Linked DNA regions of Homo sapiens: all the other regions are linked to region 1. The links come from fine-mapping of genetic effects on gene expression. A gene starts in region 1. Each other region holds a variant in brackets. All regions are shown on one strand. Distances are between the middles of the regions.

Region 1 (4,239 bases):
AAATGTCTCCGGAGGGCTGGGCACAGTGGCTCACGCCTGCAATCCTGGCACTTTGGGAGGCCGAGGCAGGCAGATCATTTGAGGTCAGGAGTTCGAGGCCAGCCTGACCAACATGGTGAAACCCCATCTCTACTAAAATACAAAAATTAGCTGGGTGTGGTGGCAGGCGCCTGTAATCTCAGCTAGTCAGGAGGCTGAGGCAGGAGAATCGCTTGAACCCAGGAGGTGGAGGTTGCAGTGAGCCAAGATTGCGCCACTGCACTCCAGCCTGGGCGACAGAGTGAGACTCCCTCTCAAAATAAATAAATAAATAAATAAAAACAAAATATATCTGGAAGCCAGGCACAGTGAGTCACGCCTGTAATCCCAGCACTTTGGGAAGCCAAGATAAGCAGATCACTTGAGCTCAGGAATTCGAGCCCAGCGTAAGCAACATGGTGAAACCCTGTCTCTACTAAAAACATAAAAATTAGCCGGGTGTGGTGGTATGCATGTATAGTTCCAAATACTCTGGAGGCTGAGGCATGAGAATTGCTTGAACCCAGGAGGCAGAATTTGCAGTGACCCCGATGACAACACTGCACTCCAGTCTGGGCAACAGAGCAAGACTCCATCTCAAAAAATTTTTAAAAAGTCTCTGGATTCAGAGGCCAGACATACCTGGCCCCCATATCCGTCAACCAATTCTCTAGCAAAATTTAGTTGTATAGACAAAACATAACACCTGATGTCTTCAGCCAAGTCTCTCTACTGTGATTATACAATTCCTAATATTTTGACCAATTCTAGTGAAAACTTTTCTGCAAAATGTAGAAGATAGTGTATGAGATCTGAAAAGGCTCTGGAGTGTTCTAGTTTAGATCTCACATGTTGTGGATGAAGAACCTGTGACCTACAAGGGCTTAGGAGTTTGCCCCCAACCTGCCCAGCACACGACAAGTTAGGGGCAGCATCAGGAGCAGATCCTAAGCCTCTCCGTGACCAGGCCAAGGACTTCAGCCCAGCTAACCCTGGTCCCTCCTCTGGCCTTTGTGGGACCTCCTGTGTCAGCCACAGAGTCCTCATGTGGTTCTTGTGGCACGAGTGAAAGCATGACATGGAAATCAACGGGGTCCCTGGCTTCCTCTCATCCCAGTTCCAATGCTTATGGACCAAGAGCATAGATCTAGGATTTGGCTTCGTGTTCTCAAAAGTGGGGACAATTTTGCCTGCCCCTGCTGCTCCATATGGAAACAGAGAAAGAGCGCTGGACTGGAAGCTGAGGTGGGAGCCCCACCCCTGCCGTTTTTAGAGTATCTGTGGTTCCAGGCACTGGGACAAGTCCCTTAACTTATCTGTACTTTTCTTGACTCACCCCCAAAAAATGGGGATAATAGTGCCTGCCCTACCCATTTCTGTAAGATCAAAATGGAAAGATGTAAGTGAAAAAAGTCGTTCATGAGTTGTGAGGAGAAAATGTGAAAAGTCTGGTTTAAGACAGAGCACGGTGGGTGCTTCCCAGGGGCCATCTTAAGCGAGGTCAGCCAAAGTGGTCTGCAGTCACGTTCCCCGTGGTGGGGACACGTCAGCCTTTTCTCCAGATGGCGGCGCTCTCCGGAGGAGCCGGAGCTGGAGGGAGGCCGGTCTGGCCCGGAGCAGGGAGTCCTTCTGCTCCCTGGCACGGCTCTGCGCTGAACCCACCCGGCCTGCGGAGAGCAGACAAGTGCCTCTTGGGCCCGCTTCTCTAACAAATGTAAAAATAATGCCCTTGAACCAGGAGCGAAACTGAGCTATCTAAGGAAAACACTGTGAGCAAATACTGAGAGCCTAGGGAAACCATCTGATTAGAAGAGCTCCCCTCAGGAGCGCGTTAGCTTCACACCTTCGGCAGCAGGAGGGCGGCAGCTTCTCGCAGGCGGCAGGGCGGGCGGCCAGGATCATGTCCACCACCACATGCCAAGTGGTGGCGTTCCTCCTGTCCATCCTGGGGCTGGCCGGCTGCATCGCGGCCACCGGGATGGACATGTGGAGCACCCAGGACCTGTACGACAACCCCGTCACCTCCGTGTTCCAGTACGAAGGGCTCTGGAGGAGCTGCGTGAGGCAGAGTTCAGGCTTCACCGAATGCAGGCCCTATTTCACCATCCTGGGACTTCCAGGTAGGCACCGTGCACCCCGGGGTAGAGCCAGGTGAACCAGGTGAGCAGGGAAGGGGGCGTTTGCGTTAAGCCCCACTCCCACCTCTGGGTGAGGACCCTGGCAGCTCTGGCTCAGAATGAAAGGTGTGAATAAAAGGAGAAGCTGGCTCGTGTCTAATAGGGCAACAGTCATGCAGGAGAAAATGGGAGGGTTAATACTCAAGGCGAAGGAATCGCTAGTGAGGAGGCAGGCCTCAAGAAGAATGGGTCTATTGTAAGGGTATGTTCATGATACCTGGAATAAACTCGTGTTTCTCAAGGAGAAAATAAATTGTGTGCATTACTTGCATGTGGCTTGCTCCTGCCTGCACATACATGGGAGCAGGGAAGCAGGATGCTGAGTATTTTGTTATATCTGGAAAAGTTTATTGAGAGCTAATTTAATTTTCTTTCCATTTCAATTAAATTTTTCAAAGTTGGAGTCTCTGTGGGTGCCAAAAAGAATATTGCCATTAAATTATAAATATCCTTTTGCTGCATTTGTATTAAGAATATCTTGTATACTGTCCTAAAAATCAATGTATATCAAAATATAATTACAGAATTATAATTATATTATGTCAGAATATAAATATAATTATAAATGTGACATCCTTTCACCCCTAAAGATGAAATAAATTAAACCCCTGCTTTTAATATAGATAATTACTTCAAATATGCATCATAGCAACTTTGCATTCTGAATAATATGGGAGCTCTATTTGTATTTTTAAAATGCAAACAAGAAAATAATAGCTCTAGCTAATTAGTGGCTCTAAGGGGTGGCCAAGATGTGAGTGTGATGGAGAAAGGAGAACAATGTCTCTGAAACAAATACCTTTTATAAACAAGTAGATGGAAATAAATTTGCAAGAAATTGTGAAGAGGCTGTAGAGCCCTTGAAACTGAATTGAATTGTGAAAAGCAATTCAACTAATCCAAGTTCATTTTCAGAAAGAAATAGAAGATGGGTGTCAGAGTAGAAGAATTTGATTATTTATTCCATTTTTTGGAAGCCACTTATTGCAGGACCAACAGGATGACTGACTCCGGGGAAAGACCTGCTTAGGGAAGCAAGGGAGGTAGAACCTGGCCAAAAGAAAGAGAACCAGACTGAGGAGGGATTATGCTGTAGTGGGAGGGGAGAGGTGAGATGCAGGAAATGCCACACAGAGTGTTGAGTTGCTAGTTATGTCTAATTTTAACTATCATATAAAGAAAAAATATTGTCCTCATATTCAAAATTAAGGCATGATGTCTTATGACTTCATGTTCAATAACCTCTCCCCAGGGCCCCACTACATATTATCAATCTCTTGCTCACTGTGTATCACAGTCTCCATACATGGGGCTCCTGAATATTCCCACTCTCCTAAATGGGCAAACCCCATTGCGTCCACTGTGACTTGTCACTCCTATTCTGTCAACGGATCTTATCTCCATGACACCCTCTCAGAATAGCTCCACCTCTCCCCCTTGATGGAACAAGATTATCTTCCCTGCTTTCCTGCTAAGGTCAACCTCTCCTGCTAAGGTCAACCTCCCCAGCAGGGCTCTGAAGGCCTCATGCCACCTGTCTGGGATCATGCCCTGTTGGTCAGCCCCTCTCCTCCTTGCCTCTTTCATCTCTTCTCCTCACTTATGCATATGGCCTCCTTCCTGGGGAAATCTGTTGATCCTGATCATTGTCAAGTTCTGTCTCTCTCCTGGGTCACTGACAAACCAAATTAAAAGACTAAGTTTTTCCACTACCTCTCACCCTTAACCTTTCTCAGTCTGGTTTCTATCCTTCATCTCTATAGAATGTTTGCTTTTTTGACCATAGCAGAGGATGAAGGGGAGTATTTCAGTCACCAACTCCTAGTTCTCAGTTCTCATCTCCTTAGACATTTCAAAACCCAAACAACTTCCACGGTTCCCCATTCCCAGCTTAACTAGGTGCACACATAACAGCCTGACACCAAGCCTTCCTAACCCCTCACCTACCTTCCTTGGCAGTCTCTTACTCCCCCATCCTGTTTCTTCTGTCCTTTCAGTATACCTTGGACTTGGTCCTGGACATCCATTGCTCCTGCTCCCCTGA
Region 2 (4,239 bases), 64 kb after region 1:
GGGTCCAGGGAGGCATCTGAATCCAAGATGAGGATTCATGCAAGGTTAGAAAGGAATGTCTTAATCAAATCTGAATATAGGGCCAAAGTTAGAGTAGTCAGTAGTTGAAAACAATCAAAGTAGTGACCATTCTTCCTAAAATAACCCTAGTTGTCTATTTTTTTTTTCTAACTTACTCTACACAAACAGCATTCCAATAGTGTAATGCTTGGCTAATTTAATAATAGGTGTGTTTTTATTTAATAATAGATTTCATTGGTGCTTCTAATAATAACATACGTGTTCTGGTTAAGCACAATGGCATTCAAATACTAGTTGGAGAGAGAATCCATAGACCCTGTAAAGGAACTGGATCACTGCTGCAGACTCCCTGAGATGCCGAAAACCTGAGTCTGCTTGCTTTCTCAATGGGGAGGTTTGTGGTCTGGGGCAAGTTCCCAGCCCTGGTCACTGGCTGCTTGGAAATAGACTTGCTCCTGTTGGTGGGGCACAGTGCGAGTGAGACCGGACTTTAGGACCGCAGGCTGCGTGGAGATGGGCTGAGGCCTGTGACTGCCAGATTTCCCCCACTTCCCTGGCGACCTGTATGACTCAGCAGAGGCAGCCATAATCCCCCTGGGAATATAACTCCATTGGACTGGGAACACACCCTCATCCCCAACAGTAGCTGCAGCAAGCCACACCCAAGGAGAGGCTGAGCTCAGACACGTCTATCCCTGGCCCCACCTGGTGGTCTTCCTGCACCCGCCCTGGTAGCTGAAGACAAAGGTCATAATCCCTTAGGAGCTGTATGGCCCTGCCCACCGCCTGAGAAACCTGAATACTTAACCAGGTGTCCCTAGGGCAAGTAGGGAAGTATGCATCCTCCCTATAGGACCACAGTTTGAAAGCACCACCTCCTAGCTGGAGGCCAACAAACACAAAACCAATGCACTAAACAAACAAAAAGAAAAAACAAGGACCCTCAAGAGTCCACTTCACTCCCCTACTACCTCCACTGGAGCAGGTGCTGGAATAGTATCCACGGCTGCAAGACCTGAAGATGGATCACATCACAGGACTCTTTGCAGACACTCCCCAGTACCAGCCTGTAACTCTACTGGGTGGCTAGACCCAGAAGATCAAAAACAATCACTACAGTTCAGCTCTCAGGAAGCCCCATTCCTAGGGGAAGGGGGAGAGCACTACATCAAGGGAGCACCCCATGGGACAGAAGCATCTGAACAGCAGCTCTTGAATCCCAGATCTTCCCTCTAACATAGTCTACCCAAATGAGAAGGAGCCAGAAAAACAATTCTGGTAATATGACAAGACAAGGTTCTTTAACACCCACAAAAATCATACCAGCTCACCAGCAATGGATCCAAACCAAGACGAATCTCTGAATTGCCAGAAAAAGAATTCAGAAGGTCAATTATTAAGCTAATCAAGGAGGGACCAAAGAAAGGTGAAGCCCACCTTAAAGAAACAAAAAATGTTATACAAGAGATGAAAGGAAAATTTTTTAGTGAAATAGCATAAATAAAAAGTTATCACAACTTCTGGAAATCAAAAACACACTTAGAGAAATGCAAAATACACTGAAAAGTCTCAGCAATAGAATCAAACAAGCAGAAGAAAGAACTTCAGAGCTCAAAGACAAGGCTTTCGAATTAACACAATCCATAGAAGACAAAAAAGAATTTTAAAAAAATGAACAAAGTCTCCAAGAAGCTTGGGACCATGTTAAACATCCAAACCTAAGAATAATTGTTATTCCCAAGGAAGAAGAGAAATCTAAAAGCTTGAAAACATCTTCGAGGGAATAATTGAGGAAAACTTCCCCAGCCTTACTAGAGACCTAGGCATCCAAATACAAGAAGCTCAAAGAACACCTGAGAAATTCATTGCAAAAAGATCATCACCTAAGCACATAGTCAACCGGTTATCTAAAGTCAAGATGAAGGAAAGAATCATAAGAGCTGTGAGGCAAAAGCACCAGGTAACCTATAAAGGAACACCTCTCAGATTAACAGCAGATTTCTCAGCAGAAACCCTACAAGCTAGAAGGGATTGGGGTCCTATTCTTTAGCTTCCTTAAACAAAACAATTATCAGCCAAGAATTTTGTATCCAGTGAAACTAAGCTTCATAAATGAAAGAAAGATACAGTCTTTTCCAGACAAACAAATGCTGAGAGAATCCGCCACTACCAAGCCAGCACTACAAGAACTGCTAAAAGGATCTCTAAATCTT[C/T]TTTTTTAATTTATTTTTTTATTATACTTTAAGTTTTAGGGTACATGTGCACAACATGCAGGTTTGTTACACATGTATACAGAAACAAATCCATGAAATACAACAAAACAGAACCTCCTTAAAGCATAAATCTCATAGGACCTATACAACAATAATACACGAAAAAAAAAAAAGGCAAGGTATTCAGGCAACAAATAGCACAATGAATAGAATAGTACCTCACCTCTCAATACTAACATTGAATGTAAATGGCCTAAATATTCCACTTAAAAGATACAGAATGGCAGAATGGATATGAATTCACCAACCAAGTTTCTGCTGTCTTCAGAAGACTCACCTAAACTCACATTAGGACTCACACAAACTTAAGGTAAAGGGGCGGAAAAAAAACATTCCATGCAAATGGATACCAAAAGCGAGCAGGAGTAGCTATTCTTATAGCAGACAAAACAAACTTTAAAGCAACAGCAGTTAAAAAAGACAAACAGGGACATTACATAATGATAAAAGGACTAGTCTAACAGGAAAATATCATAATTCTAAATATATATGCACCTAACACTGGAGTTTCCAAATTTATAATACAATTGCTACTAGACCGAAGAAATGAGATAGACAGCAACACAATAATAGTGGGGGATTTCAAGACTGCACTGACAGTACTAGACAGGTCATCAAGACAGAAAGTCAACAAAGAAACAATAGACTTAAACTATAACCTAGAACAAATAGACTTAACAGATATTTACAGAACATTCTACCCAACAACTGCAGAATATATATTCTATTCATCAGCACATGGAACATTCTCCAAGATAGACCAGATGATAGGCCACAAAACAAGTCTCAGTAAACTTAAGAAAATCGAAATTATATCAAGCACTCTCTCAGATCACAGTGGAATAAAATTGGAAATCAACTCCAAAAGAAACCCTCAAAACCATGCAAATACATGGAAATTAAATAACCTGTTCCTGAATAATCGTTGGGTCAACAACGAAATCAAGATGGAAACTTAAAAGTTCTTTGACTGAACGATAATAGTGACACAACCTATCAAAACCTCTGGGATACAGCAAGAGCAGTGCTAAGAGGAAAGTTCATGGCATTAAATGCTTACATCAAAAAGTCTGCGGCCTGGCGCGGTGGCTCACGCCTGTAATCTCAGCACCTTGGGAGGCCGAGGTGGGTGGATCAGGAATTCGAGACCATCCTGGCAAACATGGTGAAACCCCGTCTCTACTGGGTGGGGTGGCACGTGCCTGTAATCCCAGCTACTCAGGAAGCTAAGGCAGGAAAATCCCTTGAACCAGGGAGTCGGAGGTTGCAGTGAGCCGAGATCGCACCACTGCACTCCAGCATGGTGACAGAGCGAGATTCGTCTCAAAAAAAAAGGCTGAAAGAGCACAAATAGATAATCTAAGGTCACACCTCATGGAACTGGAGAAACAAGAATAATCCAAACCCAAGGAGACAATGGATCAGGACGAGTGGCTGAGGAGTGGGCCCAGAAGCCTTGGGTAGCAGCACTGGAGGTCCTAAGGACTCCAGACTGTCCTTAAATGAGGAGGGAGCTTCCCAGAGTGGGGATGGTCAGCATCACTAATTACCAGGAAAATGCAAATCAAAACCACAATGTGATACCACCTCACCCCTACAAGAATGGCCATAATCAAAAAATCAAAAATTAATAGACGTTGACATGGATGTGGTGAAAAGGGAACACTTTTACACTGTTGGTGGGAATGTAAACTAGTACAACCACTATGGAAAAGTGTGGAGATTCCTTAAAGAGCTAAAAGGAGATCTACCATTTGATCCAGCAATCCCACTACTGCGTATCTACACTGAGGAAAAGAAGTCATTACATGAAAAAGATACTTACACATGCATGTTTATAGCAGCACAATTTGCAATTGCAAAAATGTGGAACCAGCCTAAATGCCCATCAATCAATGAGTGGATAAAGAAACTGATATATATACATACCATGGAATACTACTCA
Region 3 (4,239 bases), 110 kb after region 1:
TAGAGAAGAGGAATGAATACTGACATGTCCTATCTTCCCAGATGCAGAATTGTAAAACAAACAAACATAATTGCTTTTCACATGTAAAAGAAAACTGGCTTAGAACATACTAGCGTTTTCTTTGCCATGAAGGAGTTCACCTTCAGTGACTAAGCCAGAACTACTAGAGCTGCCAGGCCTAGGGACAGGAGACATTGCCAGTGCTTAGCCAGGCTGGCCAGGACTAACCATCTCTGCAAGGAGTCCACAAGAAGCCTCAGGGCAGCCTTTCCCTGCTCCTATCAATTTGAGTTGAGCAAAAAACCTTTGACCAAATATCAGCTCCATGGCACAACCCACAGTTATGGTGCCCACATGAACTCAGGTTTCTGTTCCCAACCTGAAGCATACAACTTCATGAGGTATTTTATCAAGTTAGATAGTATCAAAAAATATTCCCAGATGAGGGAGGTGTCTGACCAAGACAGTCAGAAGGCCCCTTATCAGCCACTAGACTGGAGGATCAGCCTTCCCTAAGCAGGATTGTTCTCACTGGCCAGTCCTCACATCCGGGAGGGGGAGGAGAGGTGCTAGGGGCTGCAACTGAGAAGGGAGAGATCACCCACCCTATCTGCAGATGAGGGTGTGAGAAGCCAAGTCAGAACACCCCATACTTCCCAGGCCTCTCTCCAAAGTCCTGTTAGAAATCGAATTCCAGGAGACCAGGCAGGGGCAGCCTAGGCCCTGGGCCCCTAGGAAGTGCTCCGTGAACTAGGCCCTGCCCAGGCAGCCTCGGACCCCCTCCTCTGCCCTGCCTCCTGATCCCTGTCCTGCACTGAGCAGGTCTTCGGTGGACTTTATGCGCAGCCACCTCAGGATGAAAATACCACGTCTGCCTCCTGCTGAGGTCCAGCCCAGGAAAGGAAGAAGGGGAACGAAAGATGCCAATGCGATTGCTTTTAAATCACCTCATTACTAAAAGAATCCTCCTTTACCTACGGCACTCAGATCATCAAGCCCTCCCAAATCACTTTTCTTTTTTCAAAAAGTAAAAACCCAAGGCCGTCTTCCCAGTGAAGCCGAGTCTTGGGGCATCCCGTCATTCGTCCCCCGCGCACGGGTCCTTCCCTCCCTGGGCGCCGCAGTTCGGAGCAGGCCGAGGGGGCCGGGCTGCAGGGCCGCGCCGGGCCAGAAGGGCGCGCCCTGGGCAGCGCGGACGCACGCAGCCGGCTCCTCCCGCGCCCCGCTGCACCCCGGCAGGGAGTTCGCCCCCGCTAATGTTTAACCTCCCGAATCGCTGATCCCTCGGACTGCAGCCAAGCTACCCACCCGCCCCGCTCCCGGGACGAATTCCTGGCATAGTTTTCCCGCGCGGCCCGCTCACCGTGGGGTCTCCTGGAGCCGGGGACGGCGGGAAGACGTCTCGAGGTGGCGGCTCCCATACTCGCCCCACGTCCCGCCTCCAGACTTGCTCCACCGCCCCAGACAGCCCAGAGATGGTTCCCGGAATGCTCACCGCCCGCCGTTCCCGGGATGCTTCCCCAGCCCCACGCAGTCCGGGCGCTCTCTGCGGCGGAGGCAGAGCCTGCCCGGCCCACTCCAGTGCCGCCAACCTGCGGGACCGCGGACAGAGAGCTCCTCGGTGCGTCGGTCAGCTCGTGGCTTGGGGTCTCTGGTGCCTCCAGCTCCTACTACAGCCGCCCCGCCCCACCTCAAGAAG[A/T]GGTGGAGCCTCTCCCGGCCCCTCTCGGACGAGCTATTTTTAGGTCTGTAACGGATGGGGGAAGGCGGGAATGCCACGTTTAATCCGTTAGTAAAATCCAGGATCCAAGTGAATGGCTTCCTGGCCTTGCTGAGAGGCTGGACTTGCCCCGGTTTCCCCACACCCTGCCTCCGGTACAATCGATAGCCTGCTGTGCAGGGGCGGCCGCACCCCCCGGGCAGATAGCCCTGCCCACCCTCCTAAAGGGACCGTCCTGGTTTCTTCCTGACCGGATCCCAAGCTAGGAGAGTTCTTTGGGTGTGCCCCAGGTCTGATCAGACAGACAGCAGCCACCTTCCCTCCGCAGCCCCCACCCACCACCCCCTACCCTCCCAACCTGCTGGTTTGCCCTGGGGATGCCAACTTGGAAACCCAGGACTGAAAAACTTATTTTTTCTCCTGATATTAGTCCCTGATCTCTTCCCATAGTAGTAGTTGCTTTGCTGAGATTCCGTTTTGTGGGCACCGTAACTGTGAGTTGTGCCATAGAGCTGATATTTGGTCAAAATGTTTGTTGCTCAACTCAAATTGATAGGAGCAGGGAAAGGCTGCCCTGAGGCTTCTTGTGGACTCCTTGCAGAGATGGTTAGTCCTGGCCAGCCTGGCTAAGCACTGGCAATGTCTCCTGTCCCTAGGCCCGGCAACTCTAGTAGTTCTGGCTTAGTCACTGAAGGTGAACTCCTTCATGGCAAAGAAAACGCTAGTATGTTCTAAGCCAGTTTTCTTTCACATGTGAAAAGCAGTTATGTTTGTTTTACAATTCTGCATCTGGGAAGATAGGACATGTCAGTATTCATTCCTCTTCTCTAGAGCACTCACAAGGGGCATCAGTCAAATACCTACCCCTATTTTTATTTTAAATAAAATCCTTTTGTGGCAAAAACTTAATAGGCATTTGATAAAACCATGGCCACTTAAAAATATCTCCTTAAAGTTGCTGGGAATAGGAGGCCAGGTGTAAGGAGAGCTCTGCGCCTGGTGGAGGGAACCTCTGTCTCGCTGCTTGAAGGTTCTAGGAGTCGCTGCAGCCCCCATGAGGGTCAGGGAAGAGTGGGAAAAAAGCTCCTTTTCACACACACTCTCTCTCTCTCCACTCCGCAACTCTTCTCCCTCCCTCTTTCTCTTTTTTCCATTTCAAAGGCTTTCGTCCCACCACAATCTCAATCTGCCAAGCTCTACATTTTGAGGCAGCCAAAGCAAATGTGTATGGGAACAAGCGTTGTCAAGGACTTGCAGGGAAACTGGAACTCCTGTGCATTGCTGGTGGGAATGTAAAATGGTACCATTACTGTGGATACAGAATGGTAGTTCCTCAAAAAATTAAACAAGAATTGCCAAAAGATCCAACAATTCCATTTCTGGGTATATACCCCAAAGAACTGAAAGCAGGGATTCAAACAGATATTTGTATACTCATGTTCATAATAGCATTATTCACAATAGCCAAAAAGTGGAAACAATTCAAATGTCTATCGACAGATTAATGGATAAGCAAAATGTGGTATATCCATACAATGTAATATTAACTTTAAAAGGGAAGGAAATTCTGACACATGAATGAACCTTGAAAACTGTCTTAGTCTATTCAGGCTGCTATAACAAAATACCATTGAGTGGGTAGCATATAAACAATAGAAGTTTTTTTCTTACAGTTCTGGAGGCTGGGAAGTCCAAAATCAAGACATTGGCAGATTCGGTGCCTGGTGAGGGCCTGTTTCCTGGTTGATAGGCTGTCATCTTCTCACTGCACCCTCACTTAGTAGAAGGGGGCTGGCTAGCTCTCTGGGGTTTCTTTCATAAGGGCACTAGTCCCAATTATGAGGACTCTACCTTCATGACCTAACCACCCCCCAAAGGCCCCACCTCCCAATACCGTCACCTTGGGGGTCAGGATTTCAACCCCATTTTGCAGGGACACAAACATTCAGATCAAGGCAAAAGCATTATGCTAAATGAAATAAGCTGGACACAAAAGGACAAATATTGTATTATTCCACTTATACCTGGAAATATTGTATGATTCCACTTGTACCTAGAATAGTCCATTCACAGAGACAGAAAGTAGAATAGTGGTTACCAGTGGCTGGAGGAGGGGGAATGAGTAGTTATTGATTCATGAGTACAGATTCTCAGTTTGGGAATGATGAAAAAGTTCCAGAGATAAATGGTAGTGATGGTTGCACAATAATGTGAATGTACTTAATGCCACTGAATTGTACACTTGAAAATGGTTACGATGGCAAATTTTACATTATGTACAGTTTATCACAATTTTTTAAACATTAAAAAAAAATAGTGGATGGAGCAGGGACCAGGACTAAGTTGGGATATCTGTGCACCATGTATTCGGATGGGGGATCTTGTTCCTGCCGTCTTCTCCTAGTCAGGGCACTTTTTTCACCCCAGGATTTTCTGCCACCCACAAGAGCAAAGAGAAGAGTCCAGGCCTTGGGAGTCAAAGACACATCTACATTCCACATTCCCAAGCTACATAACCCTGG

Evidence for each region. PIP is the estimated chance that this variant, and not a neighbour inherited with it, causes the effect. A credible set is the group of variants that fine-mapping cannot tell apart.
Region 2: its variant is the best candidate, but not a certain one, in a credible set for the expression of CLDN18 in esophagus muscle (GTEx, PIP 0.54).
Region 3: its variant is the best candidate, but not a certain one, in a credible set for the expression of CLDN18 in thyroid (GTEx, PIP 0.72).

The regions. Positions count from the first base shown.
Region 1 is chr3:138,008,308-138,012,546 of GRCh38, forward strand. CLDN18 (claudin 18) reads left to right here and starts at 1,858. Exons shown (of 5, transcript NM_016369.4): 1 at 1,858-2,138. The coding sequence starts at 1,919.
Region 2 is chr3:138,072,338-138,076,576 of GRCh38, forward strand. All of the region lies in intron 11 of DZIP1L (DAZ interacting zinc finger protein 1 like), which reads right to left. Among named protein-coding and RNA genes, the nearest start is that of DZIP1L, 41 kb to the right of the region's middle. The variant C/T (reference allele first, on the strand shown) is at 2,235.
Region 3 is chr3:138,113,965-138,118,203 of GRCh38, forward strand. DZIP1L (DAZ interacting zinc finger protein 1 like) reads right to left here and starts at 1,644. Exons shown (of 16, transcript NM_173543.3): 1 at 1,364-1,644. RefSeq lists enhancers at 955-1,456, 1,457-1,956 and a silencer at 1,079-1,298. The variant A/T (reference allele first, on the strand shown) is at 1,700.